Homo sapiens: one gene and its partners. The protein of the gene in region 2 interacts with the protein of the main gene of each other region in a pairwise test. Each region holds a gene or a part of one and is shown on either strand. Other genes may lie near its edges. The genes, in order: RAB5C, SGSM3, FMO3 and RAB5B.

Region 1 (7,036 bases), on a different chromosome or scaffold from region 2:
AAAAAAAAAAAAAAAAAAAAAAAAAGAAACCCCATCTCTACTAAAAAAAATACAAAAAAATTAGCCGGGTGTGGTGGCGCGCGCCTATAGGCCTGTAGTCCCAGCTACTCGGGAGACTGAGGCAGGAGAAAGGCGTGAACCCGGGAGGCGGAGCTTGCAGTGAGCCGAGATTGCGCCACTGCACTCCAGCCTGGGCGATGGAGTGAGACTCCATCTCAAAAAAAACAGAAAAAGAAAAAATAATTTAGTAACTCATGTAGCTACTCCGCCCTCAACAAGGGGAACATGAACATAAGTCCCTGTTCCTTAGGTGTGGGCTACACAGTGACTTTCTTCCAAAGGGTGCATGCAGCATGGAAAGGGGAAGGGGAGAACAACTTTACAGAGAAGCCTCACACACATCACCTCAGCCAAGTGATCATGGTTGACATCAGTCATGGAAAGGCTTGTGGATTGTATGTACCCTTGACATGATGTGATGAAAATAGCACTTTACCTCTCTGGTCCTCCTTCCCAAAACTTGGCACAGTCTACTTATGAAAAAAACACTGGACACAGCCAGGCGTGTTAGCTCACGCATGTAATCCCACCACTTTGGGAAGCTGAGGTGAGCAGATCGCTTGAGCTCAGGAGTTTGAGACCAGCCTGGACATCATGGTGAAACCTTGTCTCTACAAAAATTAGCCAGGCGTGGTGGTGCATTTCTGTAGTCCCAGCTACTTGGGAGGCTGAGGAGAATGGCTTGAGCCGAGATTGCACCACTGCACTCCAGCCTGGCTGACAGAGCAAGACTCTGTTAAAAAGAGAAAAATACTGGACAAATCCCAGTTGAGAAGAGATTCTCTTTATTTTTTATTATTTTTTTTGAGACGGAGTCTCATTCTGTCTCCAGCCCAGGCTGGAGCACAGTGACACGATGTTGGCTCACTGCAACCTCTGCCTCCTGGTTCAAGCGATTCTTGTGCCTCAGCCTCCTGAGTAGCTGAGATTACAGGTGCGTACCACCATGCCTGGCTAATTTTTGTATTTTTAATAGAGATGAGGCTTCACCATGTTAGCCAGGCTGGTCTCGAACTCCTGACTTCAAGTGATCCACCCACCTCGGCCTCCCAAAGTGCTGGGATTACAGGCGTGAGTCACCGCGCCTGGCCGAGATCCTCTTTAGATGCTTGCCCAGCACTCCTCAAAACTGTCAAGGTCATCAAAAACAATAAAAGTCTGAGAAACTGGCACAGCAAGAGGAGCCTAAAGAGACAATGAATATAGGTAACATGGGATCCTGGAACAGCAAAAGGACATCAGGTAAAAATCTAAGGAAATCTGAATAAAGGATGGACTTTAATGTAAAATACGTACTAACATAAGATGTTAATAACAGGGAAAACTATGTGTGAGGGATTGTGAGAAAACTCTGTACTATCTGCGTAACTTTTCTAAAAGTATTCTGAAAGAATAAGTTTATTAAGCCTCGGCAACATAGGGAGACCCCGTCTCTACAAAAAAATCAAAAATTGCCCAGGCACAGTGGCTCACACCTGTAATCCCAGCACTTTCAGAGGCCAAGGCAGGCAGACCACAAAGTCAAGAGATCAAGACCATCCTGGCCAACATGGCGAAACCCCGTCTCTACTAAAAATATAAAAATTAGCTGGGCATGGTGGCGTACGCCTGTAGTCCCAGCTACTCGGGAGGCTGAGGCAGGAGAATCACTTGAACCCAGGAGACGGAGGTTGCAGTGAGCCAAGATGGCATCACTGCACTCCAGCCTGGGAAACAGAGCAAGACTCCATTTCAAAAGAAAAAAAAAAAAGGAGGCCAAGGTAGGCGGATCACGAGGTCAGGAGATGGAGACCATCCTGGTTAACATGGTGAAACTCTGCCTCTACTAAAAGTACAAAAAATTAGCCAAGCGTGGTGGCAGGAGCCTGTAGTCCCAGCTACTCGAGAGGCTGAGGCAGGAGAATGGCATGAACCCGGGAGCTTGCAGTGAGCCGAGATCGTACCACTGCACTCCAGCCTGGGCGACAAGGCAAGACTTCGTCAAGAAAGAAAGAAAGAAAGACAGAAAGAAAGACAGAAAGACAGAAAGAAAGACAGAAAAAGAAAGAAAGAAAGAAAAAGAAAGAAAGAAAGAAAGAAAGAAGGAAAGACAGAAAGAAAGAAAGAAACAGAAAGAAAGAAAGAAAGAAAGAGAGAGAGAGAGAGAGAGAGAGAGAAAGAAAGAAAGACCAGCCTCAAGGTGAGCAGAGGATATCCAAGTACTGCAGGCACAGGACCAGGGAATGTTAAAGACCCCATCTGTGGAATACACATGTGAGGGCTGCTCATACCACTGGTCTGAACAGCTGCTGCCACCACTTTTTTAAGCCACCTTCACTCAGGAACGAGCCTTGTGCAGACATACAGAACAGTATCCACAGGCAGAGTCAAATTTGCTTCCACTGATCCTTGCTAAGTACTGGTCTGGGGTCGGTGCTGCCTCACCACACACAACTGCAGAAGCACGGTCGTTCTGTCCTGCCATCAGATACACACACGGCAGAAGCCAGTCAGCCGGACTGTGGCTAGTCAGGGCCGCGCCCTCATTGTCCCATTAAACCCTTCACCAGAAATGGAGATTTGGAGAGTCTTAACTTCTGGAAACTGAGTTTGTGACTTGCTTCCCATCATCCGTACTGTAACATTGATCCTATTGACCTGTTTGCTCTCCCATTTGTCTGTGAGCAACTTTCTGGGGGATGGACCAAAGATATGGCTCAAGCTGTGGGATCAGATGGATTTAAGTTTGAATCATAGGTTCACGACATCCAAAGTGTGTGAAGAAAGGAAGGGAAGTGTGTGTTAAAAGAAGTGGGCGAGGGCCAGGCATGGTGGCTTACACCTGTAATCCCAGCACTTTGGGAGGCCGAGGCGGGTGGATCACCTGAGGTTGGGAGTTCGAGACCAGCCTGACCAACATGGAGAAACCCCATCTCTAATAAAAATACAAAAAATTAGCCGGCCGTGGTGGCACATGCCTGTAATCCCTGCTACTTGGGAAGCTGAGGCAGGAGAATCTCTTTAACTCGGGAGGCGGAGGTTGTGGTGAGCTGAGATTGTGCCATTGCACTCTAGCCTGGGCAACAAGAGCAAAACTCTGTCTCAAAAACAAACAAAAAAAAAGAAGTGGGCAAGGCTGGGCACAGTGGCTCATGCCTGTAGTCCCAGCACTGGGAGGCTGAGGCAGGCAGATCATGAGGTCAGGAGTTTGAGATCAGCCTGGCCAACATGGTGAAATCCGTCTCTACTAAAAATACAAAACTAGATGGGCGTGGTGGTACACACCTGTAATCCCAGGTACTAGGGAGGCTGAAGCAGGAGAATCACTTGAACCCAGGAGGCGGAGGTTACAGTGAGCAAGATCGTACCATTGCACTCCAGCCTGGGTGAGAGGTCAAGACTCCATCTCAAAAAAAAAAAAAAAAAAAAAAAGAAGTGGGCAGGTGTTTGGTGTTTGCTTTAAGGGCAGGTTTGAATGTCTGCCCTCTCCTTTAACAACTTCAGTAGGGAGCCTACTATGCTGAGTGCCATGCCAGGTCCTAAACACACAAAGATCAAACAGGACCCGATCTGTGCCCCTAAAGGGCTCACCCACCAGAGAATGAGGCAAATAAGGAACAATGAGATAGCAGTTGAGAAGACAGCCCATGTAGGAGACAAGCCCTCAGCCCATTTGGGGCAAGGGAAGGCTTCACAGAGGAAGTGGCATTCAAACTGAGCTTTGAGAGAAAAGTAGGGAGATACAGTTTCCAGGCACGTGAGGTGCAGAAGAGCCTTCTAGGCAAAGTGAACAGTAGGCATTTAGCCCAGAGATGGGTCAAGGAGAGGCTGTATTGAATAGCGATAAGAGCACACCCCATCTCTGCCATTACTACATAGTCCCCCACTCTAACATGGGGATTAAACACAGAACCTACCTCCTGGGGTTGTCGGAGGATTAAAGGAGTCAACACATAGGGCTCACAAGAGTGCCTGGCACATGGCAAAAATAGAAGTTTAGCTTTTATTTGTATTACTGTTCTTATACATAGAGGATGGGGCTATTTAATTGGAAAAGTAATCTCTTACAATACCAAGCTATTAATGCAGAGGATGCCAAAAATATTCCGATTCTCCTCTGCCAAGGTTTTTGCAAGCATGATTACCTGGATTTTGGCACATCCTAGTTTATAAATTCTACCTAAAGCAGTGCTTCTCAAACAGCCCCAACATATGTACCCTTCACTCAAGTCAGGGGAGAGGAAACTCCCAGAAATCTGGGAGTTGAACCCAAAGCAGCTGGCTACAAGCAAAATACTGTCTTTGGCCAGGTGCAGCGGCTCATGCCTGTAATCCCAGCACTTCGGGAGGCCAAAGTAGGAGGATCACTTGAGCCCAGGAGTTCTGAGACCAGCCTGGGCAACATGGCAAAACCCTGTCTCTACTAAAAATACAAAAACTAGCCGGGCATGGTGGTACATGCCTACAGTCCCAGCTACTCAGGAGGCTGAGGTGGGAGGATCACTTGGGTCCACAAGATCAAGGCGGAAGTAAGCCATGATCGTCCCACTGCACTCCAGCCTGGGTGAGAGAGGCCCTGTCTCAAAAATAAATAAATTAATTAATTAATTAAAGTTTCCTGTGTTAGCTTCAATTCATGCAAACTTTGCATTCTAATCTATAATAGTTACAGGACTGTTTTAATATTAAAACGCTTACAACTAAGTAAAACTGAAGTGGCACAGCGTTCTCTTCTGTAAAATGGGAATACAACCCACATCAATTCTGTTCAATGTCTACAAAATGAGACAATTTGTGAAACCATCAAGCAATGTACAAGGCATCCCAGCAGACATTTTGTTTTTGTTTTAGACATGGGGTCTCATTATGTTGCCCAGGCTGGTTTTTTTTTTTTTTTTTTTTGAGATAGACTCTTGGTCTGTTGCCCAGGCTGGAGTGCAGTGGTGCAATCTCGGCTCACTGCAACGTCCACCTCCCAGGTTGAACTGCCTCCCAGGTTCCTGCCTAAGCCTCCCAAGTAGCTGGGATTACAGGCATGTGCCACCACGCCTGACTAATTTTGGTATTTTTAGTAGAGATGGGGTTTCACCATGTTGGCCAGGCTGGTCTCGAACTCCTGACTTCAGGTGATCTCCCAGCCTCAGCCTTCCAAAGTGCTAGGATTATAGGCGTGATCCACCACACCTGGCCCCCAAGCTGGTCTTGAACTCCTGGGATCAAGCGATCCTCCCAAAGTGCTAGGATTATAGGCATGAGCCACTGTGCCCAGCCCCAGCATACATTTGGTACACATGTTGAATCAGAATCAGTGTTGAGGCTGGGCACAATTACCTGAGGTCAGGAGATCGAGACCAGCCTGGCCAACATAGAGGAACCCTGTCTCTACTAAAAGTACAAAAATTAGCTGGGCATGGTGGCACACGCCTATAATCCCAGCTACTCAGGAGGCTGAGGCAGGAGAATAGCTTGAGCCCGGGAGACAGAGGTTGCAGTGAGCCAAGATCACGCCATTGCACTCCAGCCTGGGAGACAAGAGTGAAACTCCATCTCAAAAAAAAAAAAAAAAAAAAAAAAAAAAATCAGCCAGACACGGTGGCTCATGCTTGTAATCCCAGCACTCTGGGAGGCCGATGAGGCGGGCAGATCACCTCACCTGAGGTCAGGAGTTTGAGACCAGCCTGGCCAACATGGTCAAACCCCATCTCTACAAAAATACCAAAAAAAAAAATTAGCCGGGCATGATGGCAGGTGCCTGTAATCCCAGCTACTCAGGAGGCTGAGGCAGGAGAATCGCTTGAACACAGGAGGCGGAGGTTGCAGTGAGCCTGGGCAACAGAATGAGAATGAGACTGCCTCAAAAAAAAAAAGAACCTTCAAACCCCTACCTACCCATCAGAGGCAACTGCTATTTTGTGGGCATCCAGTCTGCCAGCACTGGACTAGCTCCTTTCTTTGTTTCTAATTCTGCAAGGTATTTAGCATCCCCATTTTACCAGAAGAAACACAGGCTCAGTGAGGTCAAGTAACAAGCCCAGGGTCACACAACTGGTAAGTGGGGGAATCAGGATGAGAACTCAGGTCCAACTGCCTCTGAAGTTCTAGTGCCTTCCACCCGACCACACTGCCTGTTTACTGGGCAAGGGTTAGAAGTAGAAGGTCTGGCCAGGCGCAGTGGCTCACGCCTGTAATCCCAGCACTTTGGGAGGCCAGGGTGGGCGGATCACGAGGTCAGGAGATCGAGACCATCCTGGCTAACACGGCGGAACCCCATCTCTACTAAAAATACAAAACAATTAGCCGGACGTGGTGGTGGGCACCTGTAGTCCCAACTACTCTGGAGGCTGAGGTAGGAGAATGGCATGAACCCGGGAGGCGGAGCTTGCAGTGAGCCAAGATCGCACCACTGCACTCCAGCCTAGGCGACAGAGCGAGACTCCGACTCAAAAAAAAAAAAAGAAGTAGAAGGTCTAAGAAGTACTTGCTTGGTGGGGCTGAATTTAAATGTATGATCTTGCTCTGTTTCCATGTAAATTCTAGTGACAGGAGCTCCTGGTGGCAAGCCACATTCTTCCCACTTGCAAGCAGCAGGCAGCACCACAGGAGAAACAGAGGACTAACCAGAGGCCCGCTCTGTTGCTTCCCCCTTAACCCTGCCCAGTGGGACCCCTGAGTTTACTCACTTTAACTTTCATTTTCTAGCCATTAGGACTTTCAGGTTCCCAGAAAAATTAATGACATGTAGATGTCAGCAAACTCTCAGGCCCTGAAGAGTACTGACTTGGGACTCCTAACTGTTTTGGTCCTCAGAGGCAGAGGTGAAAGGGGTCAAGAGAGAAGACAGGAGGTCGGGTAGACGCTGGGGAAGACAAAAAAACAGAGGAGCGCTAGTGATGAGGAGGGCTAAAGAGTTAAGAGTCTGCCCTTGTGCCGTGGCGCACTCAGTCTGCATGTTCATTCATTTAACGAACAAACCAGGCCGAAGAAGGGCCCACTGTTA
Region 2 (7,000 bases):
GGAGTTCGAGACCAGCCTGGCCAACATGGTGAAAACCCATCTCTATTAGAAATACAAGAATTAGCCAGGTGTCATGGGGCATGCCTCTAATCCCAACTACTCGGGATGCTGAGGTGGGAGAATTGCTTGAACCCGGGAGGCGGAGGTTACAGTGAGCTGAGATAGTGCCACTGCACTCCAGCCTGGGTGACAGAGTGAGACCCTGTCTCAGGAAAAAAAAAAAAAAAAATTATAGATATTCATGGTTAAAAAAAGCTAGAAAATGTACAATTAATAGATGAATAAAGAAATAAATGCCAGAATGTTTACTGATTATTCCTGGGTGGTGCAGATAAGTGTAATTACTTAATCACACACACATACAAATACACACACAGCATTAAAAAAATGTTAATAGTCATACAAGAACATTTCCAGCACTGTATAAAGTTCTCTTGGACAGCACTTCACTACTTTATACTGCCTCTCAGGACTAGGTTCTGTAGTAGGTACATTTAGTCTTTGTCCATGGGATTATAATTTCATTGACCAGACAGACACATAAAATGGCAAACAACCCAAGGCCAGTTAATAAGAGAAACCAGGCCGAGCACGATGGCTCACACCTATAATCCCAGCACTTTAGGAGGCCGAGGAGGGTGGATCACTTGAGCCCAGGAGTTTGAGACCACCCTGGGCAACATGACGAAACCCAATCTCTACAAAAAAATACAAAAATTAGCTGGGCGTGGTGGTGCAAATCTGTAGTCCCAGATTACTCAGGAAGCTGAGGTGGGAGGATTGCTTGGGCCTGGGAGGTGGAGGTTGCAGTGAGTGGAGATTGTGCCACTGCATTCCAGCCTGGGTGACAAAGTGAGACCCTGCCTTAATAATAAGAACAGAGACCACAAATACTACCAAAGTTCAAAGAAATAAAGAGATAACTACAGGTTGATATGGAAAAGCCTTCATGAAGGAGGAAGATATTTACTTAATAACTCACTGAGGGATATGCATATGCTGCAGCAGGCACTGCACGGGCCTGAACTGAGCAAGACTTAGGGAGACCACAGTTTAACAGAGATAAACAATCCAACAGTCAGTCACCCTCCACCCCACATCTTTCATTAACTAGCTGTGTTACACAGGGACTCTGGTCCTTATGAAGAGGTGATCTCAGACTTCTAGTCTTGAAATGCTGTGATCCAAAGAGAAGAGGAAAAGAGAAAGGCACCAGCGAGTAAGGGAAGCAACAGAGAAAAGGTACGAAGTGGACAGCATGAGCTAGATATTCTCCTAGAACACAAAGCAGACCCAATGGTGACTTTGTGTTGAGGAAATACTCATTCAATCAACATATGTTTATTGAGTGCCTATTATGTACCAGGCACTGTTTTAAGTGTCGGGAACACAGAAGTGCTCAAAATAGATAGAAATCCCTTCTTTGAAAGTCCCAGCATTCTAGAGGGGAAAGAAGTAACTTAAAAAATTAATAAGAGACCACACTGTATGTCAGATGAATAGTGCTACAGAGTAAAATGAGGCAGGAAGAACCATAGGCACTTTCAGGAGCTGCTATTCTAAATTAGGTAGTCAGGGAAGGCTCAGTAAGAAAAATCTGAGCAAACACCTGAAGAAGGTGAGGAGCTGATGGAAGCAGAGGTCCGAAACAAAGAGCAGCACATAGGTGGTGAAGCGGGAATATAAGAGACTAGGTTGGAAAAGTGAGGAAAAGCAGGTAAATCTTCTAAAAAGAACTCTAGGTCTCGGAGTCTGCAGATTTAGATTTCAATCAGAGAATCACGATCTCAGAATTGGAGAGAACTTTACAGTTCATTCAGTACAACAACCCATTAGATTATTATTATTGGTTTTGTTCTGTTTTTTTTTGAGACAGAGTCTCGCTCTGTCACCCAGGCTGGAGTGCAGTGTGTGATCTCAGCTCACTGCAACCTCCGCCTCCTGGGTTCCTCTTCTGCCTCAGCTTCCTGGTAGATGGGATTACAGGCATGCGCCACCACACCCGGCTAATTTTTTGTATTTTTGGTAGTAGAGATGGGGTTTCGCCATGTAGGCCAGGTTGGTCTCGAACTCCCACCTTCAAGTGATCTGCCCGCCTTAGCCTCCCAAAGTGCTAGGATGACAGGCATCAGCCACCGTGCCCGGCCATATTATTATTTTTAATATACACAGGGTCTTGCTGTGTCACCCAGGCTGGAATGCAGTGGCACTATTCCAGCTCACTATAACCTCAAACTGTTGGGCTCAATCCTCTCACCCCAGTCTCCCAAGTAGCTAGGACTACAGGCACACACCATCATGCCTGGCTAATTTTTCTTATTTTTTTGTAGAGATGCTGGTCTTGCTATGTTGCCCAGGGTAGTCTCAAACTCTTGGCCTCAAGCGATCATCCTGCCTCAGCCTCCCAAAGCAGTGGAATTACAGGCATGAGCCACCACACCCAGTCCCCATTAGATTACTAAACCCATATTACTCCTCCCAGGTGACCATCTTGTCTTGGCTTGAACAATTTAGTGGATGTATCTATTTCCACATACCAAGACAGTCTGTCACCTGTGGATAGCCCTGCCTTAGGCTTTAACGTGGGCAGAAATCTGTTTGCTAGTAATATCTACTCTTTGGTCTTTTTAGGGGTACTTTGTATTCTACATACTTCAGACATTTGAAGATACCCACATCTTCTCCAAGATTTCTCTCCTCTTCAGGTTAAAGTTAGCTGATTATTTTAACTTTTTTTTTTTTTTTTTTGAGACAGGGTCTTGCTCTGTCACCCAGGCTGGCGTACAGTGGCACGATCACAGCTCACTGCAGCCTTGACCTCCCAAGCTCAAGTAATCTTCCCACCTCAGCCTCCCAAGTAGCTGGGACTACAGGCACATGCCACCATGCCCAGCTATTTATAATTTTTAAAGTTTTTTTTTGTAGAGACAGGTTCCCATTATGTTGCCCAGGCGGGTCTCAAACTCCTTAGCCCAATGGATCCGCCTGCCTTGGCCTCCCAGAGGGCTGGGATTACAGGCGTGAGCCACGACACCAGGCCTATTTTAACTCTTACATGACATGACCTCATGCCATGTAAAAGTTAAAGGTGTCTCAGCTGCAAGCCACCAAAACTGACTTTGGGTAACTTAAGTTATGAAAGACAGGAATGTATTGGAAGGATATGTAGTAGGACATAAAACCAAGGAAAAGCTGAAGACTCAGCTCGTTGAAAACAACAGCAGCTCTAGTGCCCAGATATTAGGAATTAGCCTGTGGTTGTGATGAAGGAGCTGCAACTGTTTATTGAACTTTTGTTACTGTGTCATTCAACCTAAGATTCAAATTAAAGGAGGAAAGCATCTATTTGCCTAACATCTGTTGGCCTGACCTGGGCCATGTGCCTACCACCTAGTTGGTCAGGGATGAACTGTTCTCCAAAGCAAAATTGAGCTGTTATCCCCAGAAGAACCTGGATTGGATGCTGGACAGGCCAAAACAACTTATGTCTACTAAATTTTCTCAAAATGTGATGCTTCAAATTCCACATGATCTAGATATGGAGGAGCAACACCAGGGCACTGTCTGCACACATGCTGCATGACTGGGAAAGTGACCAAATGTGTGCCTGTTTCCTGCCGGACAGTGATGGTCACAAGCATATTTGGTTATTCCTATGACAATCAAAGAAAATGTGTGCAAAATGCTTTGTAAACTCGAAGCTAACTGTAGTACTTAATACCGTAAATGCTTGTCACAGCCATTTTATATAGATTTTATTTAATCTTCAAAACTACTCTATTTCTTGATTATATGCTAAATTAAAAAAAACAAAAAACTATGAAGGTGGAGATTATGAGCATAAACTCTAGAGTCAGACTAAGTTCTAATCCTGACTCCACCAATCTTTAGCAAATTACTGTTTCTGTCACTGTTGTCTCACCTGTAAATGGGCATAATACTAGCAATACATAGGGTTGATGTGAGGATTGTGAGTTAATACAAATAAAATTCTTAGAACTGTGACTGGTATATATAGCAAACACCTAATACATATTAGCTATTACTATGAGTAGCACTAATTATTCCATTTTTGCAGGTGAGAGAAATGAGGCATGACAGATAACTTGTAAGTTCTCGAAGTTTACAATGGTAAAGCCAGGCCGGGTGCAGTGGCATGCACCTGTAATCACAGCAACTCATGAGATTAAAGCAGGAGGACCTCTTGAGCCCAGGAGTTTGAGGTTTCAGTGAGCTATGATCATGCCACTGCACTCCAACCTGGGCAACAGAGCAAAACCCTGTCAATCAATCAAGCAAGCAGACAAGCAAGGAAGCAAGCAGCAGAGCCGTAAGTTGAACTTCATTGTTGGTGCTCCGACTACCGTACTGTTTCCAAAAGACAAAAAAAAAAAAAAAAAAAAAAAAAAAAAAAAGTGGTAATTTGACTTTAACCCTATCCTCAAGTCACATAATTAAGGATATTTACAAACGAAACTCAAACACAAGAGAGGGAAAAGGGAAATGATCTGTTCTTTCATATCTTGTTTTTTTTTTTCCAGTTTTTTGAGACAGGGTCTCCCTTTGTCACCCAGGCTGGAGTGTGTGGTGTGTGGTGTGATCACAGCTCACTACAGCTTCAATCTCCTGAGCTCAAGTGATCCTCTTGCCTCAGCATCCTGAGTAGGTGGGACCACAAGCACACGCCACCATATCTGGTTAATTTTTAGAAATTTTTTTGTAGAGGCAGGGTCTCACCATGTTGCCCAGGCTGGTCTTGACCTCCTGGGCTTCAGTGATCCTTCCACCTCAGCCTCCCAAAGTGCTGGGATTACAGACATAAGCCCAGCCTGTTTCATGTCTTTAGAGTGTTAGCTTGCAGGCTAATTAGATATCTAGAGAAGGGTGAGAAAAGTCACATAATTTTGTTGTAGTGAAAAAAAAAAAATTCTCTGTCTTAATTGGAAATTATACCCTTTCCAAGATAAGACTTTTGACACTGAATTGGGGGTGTCAATCTCTTTTTTTTTTTTTGAGACAGAGTTTCACTCTTGTCACCCAGGCTGGAGTGCAATGACATGATCTCGGCTCACTGCAACCTATGCCTCCCAGGTTCAAGTGATTCTCCTGCCTCAGCCTCCCGAATAGCTGGGATTACAGGCGCCTGCCACCACACCCAGCTAATTTTTGTATTTTTAGTAGAGGCAGGGTTTTACCATGTTGTCCAGGCTAGTCTCAAACTCCTGACCTTAGGTGATCCGCCTACCTCGGCCTCCCAAAGCACTGGGATTACAGGCGTGAGCCACCACAACCGGCCTATCAATCTAATTTCTGATATCAGTTACTCTTGTTGATAAAGCTGTTTAATTATTCCAAAGCAGTTAACCTCCCAAAACAATTTACATCATTAGTAGAGAGAAAAACAAATACAAAACATGTATCACACTTAGAAAAAGCAGAAATATGTTTATCACTGCAAAAGAGGCATATATTAGAAGAGACAGTTAATAGTTAACTGTGCCTACTGAAAAGAGGTGAATGTATCTCTCCTCATGTATAAATGGTGAGCATAAATTAGTAAGCCTAAATTTTCAAAAAGGGGAGGTGATTATATATGTAGCATTCAAACAATGGTGCTGTCAAAATCAGTTCATAAGCCACACTGAAAATCTAGCCTTGTTATTTCAGTCATATGCTACTACTGATAGTACTGGTACAATGTGTTTGTTTGAGGCAAGGTCTCATTCTCTTCCCCAGGCTGGAGTGCAGTGGTACAAACATGGCTGGCTGCAACTTCGACCTCCTGAGCTGAGCCCAAGCAATCCTCCTGCCTCAGCCTCCCGAGTAGCTGGGACCACAGGCGCACATCACCATGACTGGCAATTTTATGTTTTTGGTCGAGATGGCATTTCGCCATGTTGCCCAGACCAGTCTTGAACTCCTGGGCTCAAGCAATCCTCTACCTTGGCCTCCCAAAGTGCTGGGATTACAGGCGTGAGCCGCCGTACTGGGCCCCATTCAACAGATATTTATTGCTCACCTACCACTGTTCTAGGAGATGGGGGTGAGGTGGTGAACAACACAAAGCCCCTACTTTCATAGAGCTTACATTGCAGGCAAGTATTACAAAGAAGAAATTGTAGCTCAGTTACCAGATCTGTCAGACTCTAAAGCCTATACTGTATCTTTCAACCATGTCATCTCTCAGTGGATACAGCTTTTCCCTAAAAGTATATACCTAAGCACGCAGTCTTGACACTACAGTCTAGACCAATTTAAGCTTTCTCTCTGGTGGCAGTCCAGTGACATCTTCACAATAAAGTGTTCCTTCCCCAACTCTCAAACTATAAAAACCGCCCTATTGGCTGGGCACGGTGGCTCACACCTGTAATCCCAGCACTTTGGGAGGCCGAGGCAGGCGGATCACGAGGTCAGATCAAGACCATTCTGGCTAACACGGTGAAGCCCCGTCTCTACTAAAAAAAATACAAAAAATTAGCCGGGCATGGTGGCAGGCGCCTGTAGTCCCAGCTACTCAGGAGGCTGAGGCAGGAGAATGGCGTAAATAAACCCGGGAGGCAGAGCTTGCAGTGAGCCGAGATCACGCCACTGCACTCAAGCCTGGGCGACAGAGGGAGACTCCGTCTCAAAAATAAATAAATAAAATAAATAAAAATAAAAATAAATAAACCACCCTATCAGGCCAGGTGTGGTGGCTCACGCCTGTAATCCCAGCACTTTGGAAGGCCTAGGAGGGCGGATCACGAGGTCAAGAGATGGAGACCATCCTGGCCAACATGGTGAAACCTCGTCTCTACTAAAAATACAAAAATTAGCTGGGTGTGGTGGTGCACGCCTGCAGTCTCAGCTACTCGGGAGGCTGAGGCAGGAGAACTGCTTGAACTCGGGAGGCAGAGATTGCAGTGAGCCGAGATTGCCCCACTGCACTCTAGCCTGGTGACAGAGTGAGACTATGTCTCAAAAAAACAAAAACAAAAACAAAAAACACAACTGCCCTATC
Region 3 (7,036 bases), on a different chromosome or scaffold from region 2:
CTGATCATCTACTACACTGAGCACTTTCTGCCTCTATTGATCCACTGTTTGTTCTTAGCACTTTCTGCCTCTGTTGATCCACTGTTTGTCCTTTTTTTGTCAGGGAAGAAAATAATAGTAGAAAAGCCATTGCCTTCCAGCAATCATATTTTCCATGACTGTGGATATTTGAAGTTGGCTGGATGTTGGCTCGTAAACATATTTTCTTATGAACTTTTCAAGCAATGTAATTCTACTGAGTTTTGCAATCATAATTTTATAAAGTTGTCATTCACTTAGTCTTAAGTGGATGTGAGCTTTGGTGGTCTCAAGTCTAATAAATGATCTTGGGTAATTATCAGCTGTAAGAAGTTGTAGTCACAAAATGCCTCCTCTAATAATATCTTGTAGTATTTCATACAATAATCCAAACTGGTATACTTTAAATTGCTAACAAAATATAGCACTAAAGAATATAGAATTATAAATTTTCAAAACTGAAGGGGACCTTGTAACTAGGATTATTGTTTTCACAAAGATCCAAAGTTATTGTCACTGGCATTCATCTTCGCAATCCATGAGCCTCTTTATTGACTTACCCTTTATTACTTGTGCTGCCCAGCGGGACTGGAGGTCAACTGTGGGAATGGCAGCCCCAAGGGACTGGACAAAGCCAATCACTGCTATGGTTGACTTCTCAAGTAGAGGAGGAAATACTCCTTTAAATAAAATGATCTCATTGTTTCTGCTTTTGATGATAGACTCATCAAGGAAGGGGTAGGCAAAACTATACCCTGTTGCAAAGATTACACAGTCAATGCCCTCAAATATGGTCCCATCCTCAAAAATGGCCGAGGTCTCTGTGAATTCCTTCACGTTAGGCTTTACGGACACAATGCCACACAGAATGCTTGCTGGGAGCTCATCGTTAAATACAGGCTCTTTCCTCAGGACTCTGTATGGAAAACAGAGACAATTATTGGAAGTGTAATATTTCCCTCTTGTTTTATTGGTCCATATATAAATTGATAAGGAAGGAAAAAATGACCCAAGATTTTTTTTTTCTGAGGCATAGAGTATCTCCAATATGGCTGAAGAACAAAATTGATGGGAGGCAACATTGGGAAGTAAGAGAAGTTGTTATTTGCTGGCCCCATCTCTATTTTCTGTGATCCTTCTCTTCCATGGAGCTCTTTCCAAATCCCGGAATAAAGGCTTATGCCCAGTTCCCTGTTAAAGCCTGTTTCAGGAAAAACTCTGAAGTGAGGGTACCTCGGTGTTTACATTTTTAAAGTTGCTACTTATTCAGTGGGAACCTTGATGAGATTATGTTTTTTAAATTCTTGGTGTCTCATATTTCTCATCTGGAATGTCAGTAATGTTTGTACTACCTCAGAAGTTCCCTAAATGATATAAAGAGTTTTGCACAGTCTCTAGCATATGCATGGAGCTCGAAAATGTTAACTGTTATTCTTAATTCAGTATACTCCAAGATGGTCATCATACTGTGGAGAAGACCAAATAGGAGGAGGAAAGTCAAAGGTGTGAGAGCTGCAGCTGGGCTCTTGAGGGATGAAGTATGAGCCCCATGCAGACAGAGGCACCAATCAGGTGAAGGAGGGAGCACCCAGGAATTTAAATAAGGCCAGAGGGAGGGTGCCAGTTTGAGGCTTTGGCAACTGCAAGTCTGGAAAGAGAGAGCTTTGGACTACTTTTTATTCAATAATATCTGTAGTGGGAGCAGAGAAATCTGAACCCAGGGATGAATGTGAATACAGTTGAAGGAAAGAGTGTTGTTCTTGTATGGCTGTGGGAGCTGTGAGAGAGTGCTACAGGCAGATTCCACTGGAGAACAAACTCCATCACCACGCTGAAACTGCTCTTGTCAAGGCCATCAGAATCAGGCTCCCAGATCCAGTGGTCCACCCTCACTTTCCCTTTTACTCAACTTAGCATTTAACATAATTGATGGTTTCCTCTTTCTTGAAACACTGTATTCATTTTGTTTCCAGGTCATCACTCTCTCTCAGTTCCTTTCCTACTTTGCTGGCTATTCTTTTTCTGTCTCCCACAGATGTCTTCTCCTCTTCCTGACTTCTGACAATGGCATACCTCAGGACTCAGTCCCCAGACCTTTAGTCTCCTCCATTTACATGCATTCTTCAAGAGATGTCATCTAGTTCCATTTCTTCAGGAAAAATTTTCTCATGACTCCAGAGTTTTAACTTCTGGTTTGAGCCTCCCTCCTGTCTTGTGTTTCCCACTGCTGGCTCAACATTCTTCTACCAGAATGTCTAATAGGCATTCCAACTTTAATATGTCTAAAACTGAACTTCTGTTCCTCCTGCAGTTTTTCACATTTTAGTAAACGTCAATGTCATCCTTTTTCAAATATCTTGAAGACATTCTTACTCCCTCCTTGCTCTCTCATCCTCTATCCAGTCCACAGAAAATCCTATTTGGGTCGACCTTCAAGCTATCCAGAAATCTGCCCAATTCTGACCACTCACTGCTAACAATTTTGGTCCAGACCAACATCCCCTCTGATTCAGGTTTTTGAGAGTAGCTTTTTAACTGGTCCTTTCACTTCCTTCCTTGCCCTACCCTTACATTGAATGATGACCACAGCAGCCGATCAATCTCTGCAATGCTAATTTAGGTCTTGTAATTCATTTGCTCAGATGCCTGCTGTAGTTTCCCATTGCTTTCAGAGTAAAAGCCAGAGTCCTTACAATGATCTACAAGGCCCACGCCATCCAACAATTTTTATGTCTCTGGTTTTATCTCCTGGCATTCTCCCCTCATTCTCTTTTCTCAAGGAAGAGAAGCCCCATTGTTGTTTGTTGATCATGCCAGCCCTGCCCGTAAATGCCCTGGCTGTGTCCTCAGTCTGGAATACCCTTCCCCTGAGACCCTCATGGCTCATTCCCTCAACTCCTTCAGAGGTTTTCTTAAAAGTCTCCTCCCTGAGACATACTCTGAGGACTCTATTGGAAATTGTCCTGACAGCACTTGCCATTACCTTTATCTGCTTTGTTTTCTTCCCCAAAGCACACATCGCCATATGATCTTATGCTATTGTTTGTCTGTTTCCCACCACTTAGAATGTAGGTTCCATGAGGACAGGGATTTTTGCATGTTTTGTCCACTACTATATCCACAGGGCTAAACACAGGATGTGGCATATAATAAACGTGTAATAAATGTTTGTCAAATTAATGAATTCACTTTGATGAAAACAGCTCGTAACTTGGGTTTTTCACCTCTTGTCAAAGTCATTTCTTGTTATGTTACTGGCTTGGAGGACGTTATAGGAGAAGATGGGAAGGAGACTGAAGATGCAAGCATTGGTAAGTATGTGTTTAGTGAGAGGGGGTCCATTAAGGGGTGGGTGATGAAACGAAGAGGGAAAGGTAGGACATGAAACGTTCTCCTGATGTGCTTAACTTTGCCATTAAGTGACAGGTAGTAGAGCAAGTGGCCAAGACTGAGAGGCTCTAGAATCAGCAGATCTGGGTTTGTTTTGAACGCTGCTTCTACTTCCTGGCTGTGGGACCTTAGTAAAGTTATTAACTACACTGAAACGCAGTTATCTCATCTCTAAAATGGAGATACTAGTAGAGCTCTCTTCATAATTGTAAGGATAAAATGAAATAATATATGCCAGAGCCTTAGCAGAGTCTTGCTAAATCTCTGACATGTATAAAATGCTTAAAAGAGGTTAACTTTGATTATCATTACTCCCGGGACTAATTCCTGAGGCATTATATAATTTTCCAGCTGTGTAAATATAGTAAGGAGGATTGCAAAATAGGAAATCACTCTTAATTTGTGCAGTTCTTTATCTTCTGATATATGAGTTGTGATTGCTAATACTTTGATTTGTTTTGGGCTTACAGGACATTAAGGGTTGTTGACACTGAACTAAAAGCCAGCAGGCATATCACGTTTAGCTCTGCATTACCCATTTAAAGGCATCAAGCCATAGTTTTCATGCTTGAATCTTGCATTCATCTGCTTCACGTACAACCAGTCAGAGATGGCTGTCGGTAAATTGTTCTTGAGGAAGGTTCCAAATCGAGTGACGAGCAGCATGTCCCAAGGATAACCATTGTCCCAGACCCGGCTCATCACCCAGGAGCCACTTCTGGAACTGATCATGACCTTAAAAAACACCAATTCAACCATGAAATTAGTGACCATTTGTAGTGGATATTCTGGTGAGCACCCCAGATCCCTCTTGAGGAATGGATCTATTACCCCAGCTGCAGAAAGTGGTGTCAGAAGACATCTCTCAGCTGTCAGTCCTTTTTGACCATTGCTTTGGCTGAAGAGAGGGGCCTCACCCAACATCTTCTACTCTTTCTGAGTTTCCTCCATCTAGTGACTGGTCAATGCGGGCGTATAAAGGCCCAGTCCCTCACCTCAAATTGGGGCAATGCCAAAGGACCATCCCAGCTTCAAAGTAAATGGAAGCTTCCTTCCCTTCCTGTGGAAGTATTGATCCTGAGAGTGTTCCCAAATAAACGTCTGAACTTTACATCTACATCTTAGGGTCAGCCACCCTGTCACAGTGCTGCAGGCAAATTTTCATATTTTAATCAATCTCTGCTACAGGTGACTAATAACTGAATTCTAGTCACGTTTTCCCTAGCACTTATCTAACTATTGCTGTCTACAAATAAGCAATTATGATCTCAAAATAGGCATTTTAAAGCAAAATGCCTGCTACTATCTGGAAAGAAGGTGAGAAATTTGGAATCAGAAAACCATACGCTCAAACGCTGGCTCTCCTACTTATTAATGATGTGATTTGAAAAAATTCCTTTAACTTCTCTAATCTTGTTCCCTCATTCCTAAAATGGAGAGAATCGAATTTGCCTCATCAAATTTGTGTAAGCGTTAATTCGATGTGATAAACTATGTCACATGGCTAACGTTACCTGGCAGATAGTATGTGCTCAGTAAATGTCAGTTTCCTTTCCTTCCCCTTCTGTTATGCTAATCCATAATAGTGTAGTTTTCAGGCTTTCTTTGTCTTTTTTAAAACCAATTTTTATATGCCATATCACTTCAAGGCATTTGTTATAAGAGGAACTAGACAAGAAGAGACTAAAGGAGTCCGGGCATGGTGGCTCACGCCTATAATCCCAGAATTTTGGGAGGCCTAGGTGGGCAGATCATCTGAGGTCAGGAGTTCAAGACCAGCCTGGCCAATATGGTGAAACCCTGTCTCTACTAAAAATACAAAAAGTAGCTGGGTATGGGGTGTGGTGGTGGGTGCCTGTAATCCCAGCTACTCAGGAGGCTGAGATGGGAGAATTGCTTGAACCTGGGAGACGGAGGTTGCAGTGAGCCGAGATTGTGCCACTGCACTCCAGCCTGGGCAACAGAGTGAGACTCTGTCTCCAAAAAAAAAAAAAAAAAAAAAAAAAGAAGAGACTAAAGGATCAATTAATTAAATAGCCTCTGAAATTGATCTTCCCTTTAATTTATCACATATGCAAATAATCACATATACAAATAGAAATCTGTGAAAACTATGAGTTCATCATAAATTTCCTAAACCCAAGAAGCTGAAATAATGATTTACCTTTATTTACACAGAAATCTATTTTATCCTGTCATTCAAGTCCTTAAAATATGTGATATAATCTGATCCCAATCTTTCTTTCCTGTAACGCAATCCTATGACTACTGTTCCTTGGATTCGGAAGCTTTGGCTTTCAGTTCTGTAACCCTTCAGTGGCTCAAACATTAATTTTCTCAATGACTTTCAAGAAGACAATTGACATTTCTGGTCCTCATTTATCCTTTCTGTTATAAAACTACTTTCTTCCCACAAGCAAAGGAGCCCATTTACAGGAAGGTATTTGAGTACCATAATGCATCATACAAATTGTTAGCATTAAGAACCTCCATTCCAGCAAGATGAAACTATAACCTACAATAGTAAAATATACAATGCTCATTTTCTTGTCTTCTTGCCTCTGCTTGTGGCATTTCCAATTCTAAGAACAGCTTCTGTCGCCTCTTCAGTCTCATGATTTATATTTATTGTTCAAGGACTGGTTCTATTCTACCTCCTTTGTGAAGCATCCAGTTTTGGAATCATAGCATTTAGTGCCTGAATCACTTGTTTATCCTTTTTTTCCAGTGGCAGCTCTTGTTCCAGAGCAGGGATCATGCCTGTTATGTTCACCACTGTCTTCAGCACCCAACCCAGTGCCTGGCACATAGTAGGCCCTCAATAAGTAGTCATTGAATAAATGTGTGCCTGCATCATAAATGAATGAATAAATGAGCCACTCTGTATTGCTTAAGTCTTGTTCAAAAGCTTTAACTTTATAACAAGCCCAGAAGTAGGTTCTATTTTTATCTGTTTTACCATTGAGAAACCTGCCTCAGAGAGATTGAAGGACTTGCCCGAGTCTAAGAGTCATAACCTTCACCCTAAATCTGTGCTAGTTTTAGAGAAATTGATCCGAGATATTAGGCATCAAATGTCTTGAAGAAGGAGATTGTTGAATGACAGTTACTCCTTGCTGATGTTCTGCCTTTGTCTATGAAGTGATTTAAAACCTCACCTGTTACTTGGGGAAGCTCAGCTATGTGAAATACCACTTAGTCTTTACATCAGATACCCTTCCCTCCTCCCCCACATTTCATATCACACCTTTCAAACGATAATAACTCTTCTGTCAGTAACGAGAGTCACCCGAGTACCCGGGGAGTAGTACCTGTTCTGCTGTGCGGCTGAGTTCTGTGGCAATATCACAGCCCGAATTCCCCAGGCCAACCACCAGGACACGCTTTCCATTGAATACACCTGGTTCTTTATAGTCCCTGCTGTGGAAGCATTTGCCTTTAAAGTGGTTTAGTCCTGAGTGAAAAGTGAGAAATACATGGCAGTTTGAGTCATATATTTAAACAAAGACTTTAACAGAAGCGACCTTGTGAATAGATGCAGTCACAATAATGTGCTATTTTAACACACCAAGCATATTAGATATAACAGAAGTATATTTTAATTTAACCTGCTTATACTTTTAGAAAA
Region 4 (7,036 bases), on a different chromosome or scaffold from region 2:
AGTCCCTTACCACAAATTTAATTGCTCCCTCCTTCCTGTTTTCACACTGGTACCCCCACAGCTGGTACCTCCCTAACCCTCTGCTCTGGAGTTTTCTCCTGACTCCTTTGAAAATCTCCTGGCTGTCATTAGGGTCACAGTGTTGCTGTATTTAACTTGGTGTAGAACTGGGGAATGAGACAATGAATGTCCTCTGTTGACGTTTTCAGAGAGGGCTGGTTTGGAAAAAAAGAGGTCCCAGGAACAGAGGAAGTGTTAGAGAGGAACTCCACGGGCCACCTTACTTCATACTCCACCATACGTTTGTTGGCCAGGTCAGCTTTGTTCCCTGCCAGGGCAATAACGATGCTAGGACTGGCCTGTCGCTGTAGTTCCTTCACCCATGTCTTTGCTCGGGCAAAGGTTTCCTAGGAAAACATGAAGAGAATGAGTAGGCTGGAATGACTGCCAATCCATATCCATCACCTTTTAAAATGAGTCTCAAAATTCACCTCTTCTAGGTGGTCTTCCCTCAGTGAAACCACAGGTCTCTGATAATTCATTATCTGTCTTCTTAGCACTTGGAAGCATAATTTGTACTCTTATTTGCTATTTCAAGAACCCGTTTTCTGCCCCCTTACCCCCTGCCCCAAACTAACTCCTCTAAATATAAGCAAGGACAGTCTTTTTTCTTTTTTTTTTGAGGCGGAGTTTTGCTCTGTCGCCGAGGCTAGAGTGCAGTGGCTCGATCTCGGCTCACTGCAACCTCCGCCTCCTGGGTTCAAGCGATTCTCCTGCCTCAGCCTCCCGAGTAGCTGGGACTACAGGCGCGCACCACCACGCCCAACTAATTTTTGTAATTTTAGTAGAGACGGGGTTTCACCATGTTGGCCAGGATGGTCTCAATCTCTTGACCTCATGATCCTCCCGCCTTGGCATCCTAAAGTGTTGGGATTATAGGCGTAAGCCACCATGTCCAGCCAACAAGGACAGTCTTCTTAGCTCACTTACCTGATTAGTAATGTCGTAAACCACGATTGCAGCTTGGGCACCCCTGTAGTACATGGGGGCTAAGCTGTGATATCGCTCCTGCCCAGCTGTGTCCCAGATCTCAAACTTCACTGTTGTGTCATCTAGACAAACGGACTGGGTGAGGAAGGCCGCTATGGATGAGAGAATGGAGGGGAAGATGCTGTAAGTGGGAGGATGAATGGGAACATCCCTCCCCCCCTTCAAAATGTAACTGCCCTACACTAAGACCAGTCACCACCCAGGATAGTCAGCTACAGGAAAAGGTTTTGAGTTCTCCTTACATGTAAGTCTTGAAACCAGGATTAAGACTGCCCTTGGCTAAGTCCTTCCTGCCAGAAATGTCACTAGCTAAGGAATGGGGGTACATCATAAACTAAGAGGGACAGAAGAACTGGCACTTATACGAGTCATCCTTCTTCTAACCAAAATAGGAGAATAACAAATGACAGAGAAAATAGCTTCAGATAAAAGTCACATCAAGAATTAATTAGAAGATTGGGCTGGGCACGGTAGCTCACGCCTGTAATCCCAGCACTTTGGGAGGTGGGGGCTGAGGCAGGTGGATCACCTGAGGTCAGGAGTTCGAGACCAGTCTGGCCAACACGGCAAAACCCGTCTCTACTAAAAATACAAAAATTAGCCAGGCGTGGTGGTGGACACCTGTAATCACAGCTACTCGGGAGGCTGAGGCTGGAGAATCCCTTGAACTTGGGAGGTGGAGGTTGCAGTGAGCCAAGATGGCGCCACTGCACTTCAGCCTGGGCAACAAGAGCGGAACTCCGTCTCAAAAAACAAACAAACAAACGCAAACAAACAAAAGAATTAATTAGAGGATTGGCTGGGCGCAGTGGCTCATGCCTGTAATCCCAGCACTTTGGGAGGCCAAGGCAGGTGGATGGCTTGAGGTCAGGAGTTCGAGACCAGCCTGGCCAACATAGTGAAACCCCGCCTCTACTAAAAACACAAAAGTTAACCAGGCATGGTGATGGACGCCTGTAATTCCAGCTACTTGGGAGGCTGAGGCAGCAGAAGTGCTTGAACTGGGGAAGCGGAAGTTGCAATGGGCAACCACTGCACCACTGCACTCCAGCCTGGGCAACAGGGTGAGACTCAGTATCCAAAAAAAAAAAAAAAAAAAAAAAGAATTAATTAGAAGATTTTAAAGCTTGATGGCAAGTCCCATCATTATCAATATTATTTGGCTGTTACTTTTTCATATAATCTGCTGCAGGTCCAGGAATACATTTCCAAGATGACTAATAAAAAGGGGAAAGAGGCCAGGCACGGTGGCTCATGCTTGTAATCCCAGCACTTTGGGAGGCCGAGGCGGGTGGATCACTTGAAGTCAGGAGTTTGAGACCAGCCTGGCCAACACGGTGAAACCCTGTCTCTATACAAATACAAAAATTAGCCGGGCATGGTGGTATGTGCCTGTAATCTCCGCTGCTCAGGAGGCTGAGGCACGAGAATCACTTGAACCTGGGAGGCAGAAGTTGCAATGAGCCAAGATTGCACCACTGCACTCCAGTCTGGGCGACAGAGACTCCGTCTCAAAAATAAATAAATAAATAAATAAAAATAACAAGGGGAAGGAATAATTTGGAAGTTCTCATAAAAGATCCTTTATTGAATTAGCACCCTATTTTGGGGTAGTAGTGGGGAAAAGGTAGCAAAGATGAGAAAGACAGACACCCTTTGTATTTTGCATTAGTTCCAGCCTCTATTTTACCAGATTTTTTTTTGTTTTTGAAACAGTCTCGCTCCTTCGCCTAGGATAAAATGCACTGGCGTGATTTTGGCTCACTGCAACCTCCGCCTCATGAGTTCAAGCGAGTCTCCTGCCTCAGCTTCCCAAGTAGCTGGGATTACAGGCATGTGCCACCATGCCCGGCTAATCTTTGTTGTTGTTGTTGTTGTTTTGTTTTTTTGAGACGGATTTTCACTCTAGTCACCCAGGCTGGAGTGCAATGGCGCAATCTTGGCTCACTGCAACCTCCATCTCCTGGGTTCAAGTAGTTCTCCTACCTCAGCCTCCTGAGTAGCTGGAATTATAGGCATGTGCCACCACGCCCAGCTAATTTTTTGTATTTTTAGTAGAGACGGGGATTTCACCTTGTTGGCCAGGCTGGTCTTGAACTCCTGGCCTCAAGTGATCCGCCTGCCTTGGCCTCCCAAATGCTGGGATTACAGGTGTGACCCACCATGCCCAGCCTATTTTACCAGATTTTGATTTTTTTTTTTTTTTGGAGATGGAGTTTTGCTCTTGTCGCCCAGGGTGGAGTGCAGTGGCGCAATCTCGGCTCACTACAACCTCTGCCCCCTGGGTTCAAGTGATTCTCCTGCCTTAGCCTCCCGAGTAGCTGGGATTACAGGCGCCTGCCACCACGCCTGGCTAATTTTTTGTATTTTTAGTAGAGACAGGATTTCGCCATGTTGGGCAGGCTGGTCTCGAACTCCTGACCTCAGGTGATCCGCCCATCTTGGCCTCCCAAAGTGGTGGGCCACTGGGACCGGCCTCTGTTTTTATAAAGGGTTTCCATTTCTGGGGAAAAGAATGGGACTAAGAGGGCCAGCTCCATAATCAGGTCTTATATCTCTTTTCAAAAGCCTTACCGGCCCGGCGTGGTGACTCACGCCTGTAATCCCAGCACTTTGGGAGGCCGAGGCAGGCAGATCACCTGAGGTCAGGAGTTTGAGACCAACCTGGCCAACATGATGGTGAAACCCCCTCTCCACTAAAAATACAAAAATTAGACAGGTGCCACGGTGTGCACCTGTAATCCCAGTTACTCGGGAGGCTGAGGCATGAGAATCGCTCGAACCTGGGAGACAGAGGTTGCAGTAAGCCAAGATTGCGCCACTGCACTCCAGCCTGGGTAACAGAGCAAGACTCCATCTAAAAAAAAAAAAACCCTTACCAAACATTCAATCTCCTATTACCCCAAGGCACTCACCTCCAATGGTGCTCTCCTGGTACTCATGGAACTGCCCTTTGACAAAACGTAATACCAGGCTTGACTTTCCCACTGCAGATTCTCCCAGCAGGACCAATTTGAACTGGCAAATTTTGCTGGCCTGGGGTTGCCCATTGGGCCTAGCTGTGCTTCTGCTAGTCATGGCCAGATTATCAGAATGGGAAAGGGTGGAGGGAGGGGGATACTGTAAAGGGGGGAGGGGGAAGGGGAGGGGATTTCCAGGCTTCAACACTCCTGCAAGAAAAAAAAGTGAATAAAATTAAACATACGTCCATTGAAGCTGCAATCGCTTTTCAGAGAAGGATAGAACCTCTTCATCTCCTTGCTTCTATGAGGACTTAGCTCTGAGAAGGTCCCAGGCAGCTGATCCTCAGTGGTAAGAGTTGGGAAGAGCAAAATAAGAACTGCTTCTGGAGTCTGCCCTACCACATAATCTCTAACTGCCAAGGGAGCCGAAATAGAGAGACTGAAAACTGAGAGTTTTTAATTCCCCAGTAATTCCCCACCAGGTCTTCAAAGTTTTTTGTTTGAGTCACACAAAGTGATCAACCTTTAGCTGGCCTGAAGAATATCCAGATCCACCCACCGGTACCCTAGATCCCCAGTATCTCCTTGGCATCCTGGTGCTGTGCTCTTCTTTTCCTTTTCTTCTTTTTTTTTGAGACGTCACTCTTGTTGCCCAGGCTGGAGTGCAATGGCACAATCTTGGCTCACCACAACCTCTGCCTCCCGGGTTCAAGCAATTCTCCCACCTCAGTCTCCCGAGTAGCTGGGATTACAGGCATGCACCACCACGCCTGGCTAATTTTGTATTTTTAGTAGAGACGGAGTTTCTCCATGTTGGTCAGACTAGTCTAAGAAGTCCTGACCTCAGGTGATCTGCCCGCCTTGGCCTTCCAAAGTGCTGATATTACAGGCATGAGCCACCGTGCCTGGCCTTCTTTTCATTTTTCCTTAGCTCTTTGTCAAAATGAGAGATTCACTCTAGGGGTGTGGGATAAGAGTCACCACTCCTAAGGGCAGAAGGGTAGTTGCTGCTGTATCCTTTATATATGACCGGTCTCCCTGATAAGACATTTCTAAAGATCTAACCAGGGTCCCATTGCCACAAAATCTATCCTTTCTCATTTTTGGTTGAAGGTAAAGAGAGAAATACAACCAACAGATCACATTCATTATCAACTCTTTGTTTCATTAACAACTCTTTTTTCACTTTGTTTCTGCCATCTTTCCAAATCTGAAAGTCTATCAAGAATCAGTAAGCTTGACCTACTCTCAACTTGCAGCTGTCTTGCTGGTGCCTAGGGATTAGATTACCCTCCACACCAAAGGGGCCTAACAGCTGTAGCCCTCCAAATTAGAGGCAGAGAAAGGTATACCTTCTAAAGACATGCAGAAGTCTCCAGAGGATGGTATAGGGCGTTAAGTCTGCAAGCAATCAGTATTTGATGAAAGAATACACTGAATCAGCTCCTCTATCTTCTAAGAGGGCTAAGAAAGCTGCTGGTGGGGCAGGGAACAGAGAGAAGAGTTGGGACTTTGAGATTCTAATCGTCTAAATCTGAATACATTTCATCATCCTGACTCTGAGCGGAAAGGAACTATGAAATTCAAAGGGAAGTTAGCATAGGCAGAGCATGCAAAAACCTCTCTCCCAAACCTAAGCATTGCTTGAGAGTTGTACTTTGCTTGTTCAAATTACTCTTTCGCTTTTCCAAAGCAGATCCTAGTGACTTCACAGACATCATACTCTATGGCATATGTGGGGAAACATCATTATTTTGTCACCACAATTAGTGGGACTGGAGTTAAACTGGGGTTAAAAATTTTCAGTAACCCCACTTACTAGATCGTAAAGACAGAAAATCATACAGGAGGCAATTCAGAGGAATAAAGGCTCTGGAGTCCAATTCTCCACGTTTGTTTTTCAGCTCTACTTACTAGCTATGAACCTTGAGCAAGTCACTAAATATATGTGTGCATTCATTTCCTCATCTGTAAAATGAGATAATAGCCTTATAAGCACCTACTTCATAAGGGTGTTGTAAGGATTAAATGAGATAATGCATATAAATAACTAAAGTATTTTAAGTATTTGATAGATACTAAGTGCTAAATAAATATTAAGCTACTAATCATTACTAATATGATATAAAGAGAATTTCTCTACCTCTCTAAGCCTTACCTTCTACCTTTGTAAAATGGAAAAAATACCATCCTCATAGCTACAAATAATAAGTGAAAGATGTGTTTAGCATAGTGCTAATAGCTATTAAAATATATCTCAATATTAGTTGTTATCAATATATTCCTAAAAAGCAGCCACAGCCTGGGTGCAGTAGCTCATACCTATAATCCCAGCACTTTGGGAGGCTGAGGTGGATCACCTGAGGTCAGAAGTTCGAGCCCTGCCTGGCCAACATGGTGAAACCCCGTCTCCACTAAAAATACAAAAAAAATTAGCTGGGTGTGGTGGTGCATACCTGTAATCCCAGCTACTCCAGAGGCTGAGGCAGGAGAATCGCTTAAACCCAGAAGGTAGAGGGTGCACTGAGCTGATGCGCCACTGTGCTCCAGCCTGGGTGACAGAGCGAGACTCCGTCTCAAAAAATAAAAGGCGGGCACAGTGGCTCACGCCTGTAATCCCAGCACTTTGGGAGGCAAAGGCAGGCAGATCAGGAGGTCAGGAGTTTGAGACAAGCCTGGCAAACATGGTGAAACCCCGTCTCTACTAAAAATACAAAAATTAGCTGGGCGTGGTGGCGCGTGCCTGTAGTCCCAGCTACTTGGGAGGTTGAGGCAGGTGAACTGCTTGAACTTGTGAGGTGGAGGTTGCAGTGAGCTGAGATTGCACCACTGTACTCCAGCCTGGCGACAGAGCAACAGCGAGACTCAGTCTAAAAAAAAAAAAAAAAAATTAGCCGGGTGTGGTTGGTGGCCGGCATTTGTAATCCTACTCGGGAGGCTGAGGCAGAACTGCTTAAACCCGGGAGGCGGAGGTTGCAGTGAGCCGAGATCGTGCCACCACACTCCAGCCTGGGTAACAGAGC

Evidence for each region.
Region 1: the proteins of SGSM3 (region 2) and RAB5C interact in a two-hybrid assay, tested with the Homo sapiens proteins (one study listed by BioGRID).
Region 3: the proteins of SGSM3 (region 2) and FMO3 interact in binary tests that used the Homo sapiens proteins (3 or more experiments, as listed by UniProt).
Region 4: the proteins of SGSM3 (region 2) and RAB5B interact in a two-hybrid assay, tested with the Homo sapiens proteins (one study listed by BioGRID).

What each region holds. Positions count from the first base shown.
Region 1 is NC_000017.11:42,144,956-42,151,991, forward strand, and holds part of RAB5C (ras-related protein Rab-5C), read right to left. Parts: intron 1-7,036. UniProt on the Homo sapiens protein: The small GTPases Rab are key regulators of intracellular membrane trafficking, from the formation of transport vesicles to their fusion with membranes.
Region 2 is NC_000022.11:40,373,594-40,380,593, reverse strand, and holds part of SGSM3 (small G protein signaling modulator 3), read right to left. Parts: intron 1-7,000. UniProt on the Homo sapiens protein: May play a cooperative role in NF2-mediated growth suppression of cells.
Region 3 is NC_000001.11:171,107,905-171,114,940, reverse strand, and holds part of FMO3 (flavin-containing monooxygenase 3), read right to left. Parts: intron 6,863-7,036; coding exon 6,720-6,862; intron 4,144-6,719; coding exon 3,944-4,143; intron 935-3,943; coding exon 579-934; intron 1-578. UniProt on the Homo sapiens protein: Essential hepatic enzyme that catalyzes the oxygenation of a wide variety of nitrogen- and sulfur-containing compounds including drugs as well as dietary compounds.
Region 4 is NC_000012.12:55,984,053-55,991,088, reverse strand, and holds part of RAB5B (ras-related protein Rab-5B), read right to left. Parts: intron 4,221-7,036; coding exon of another isoform or gene 4,129-4,220; coding exon 3,966-4,128; intron 1,143-3,965; coding exon 991-1,142; intron 408-990; coding exon 285-407; intron 1-284. UniProt on the Homo sapiens protein: The small GTPases Rab are key regulators of intracellular membrane trafficking, from the formation of transport vesicles to their fusion with membranes.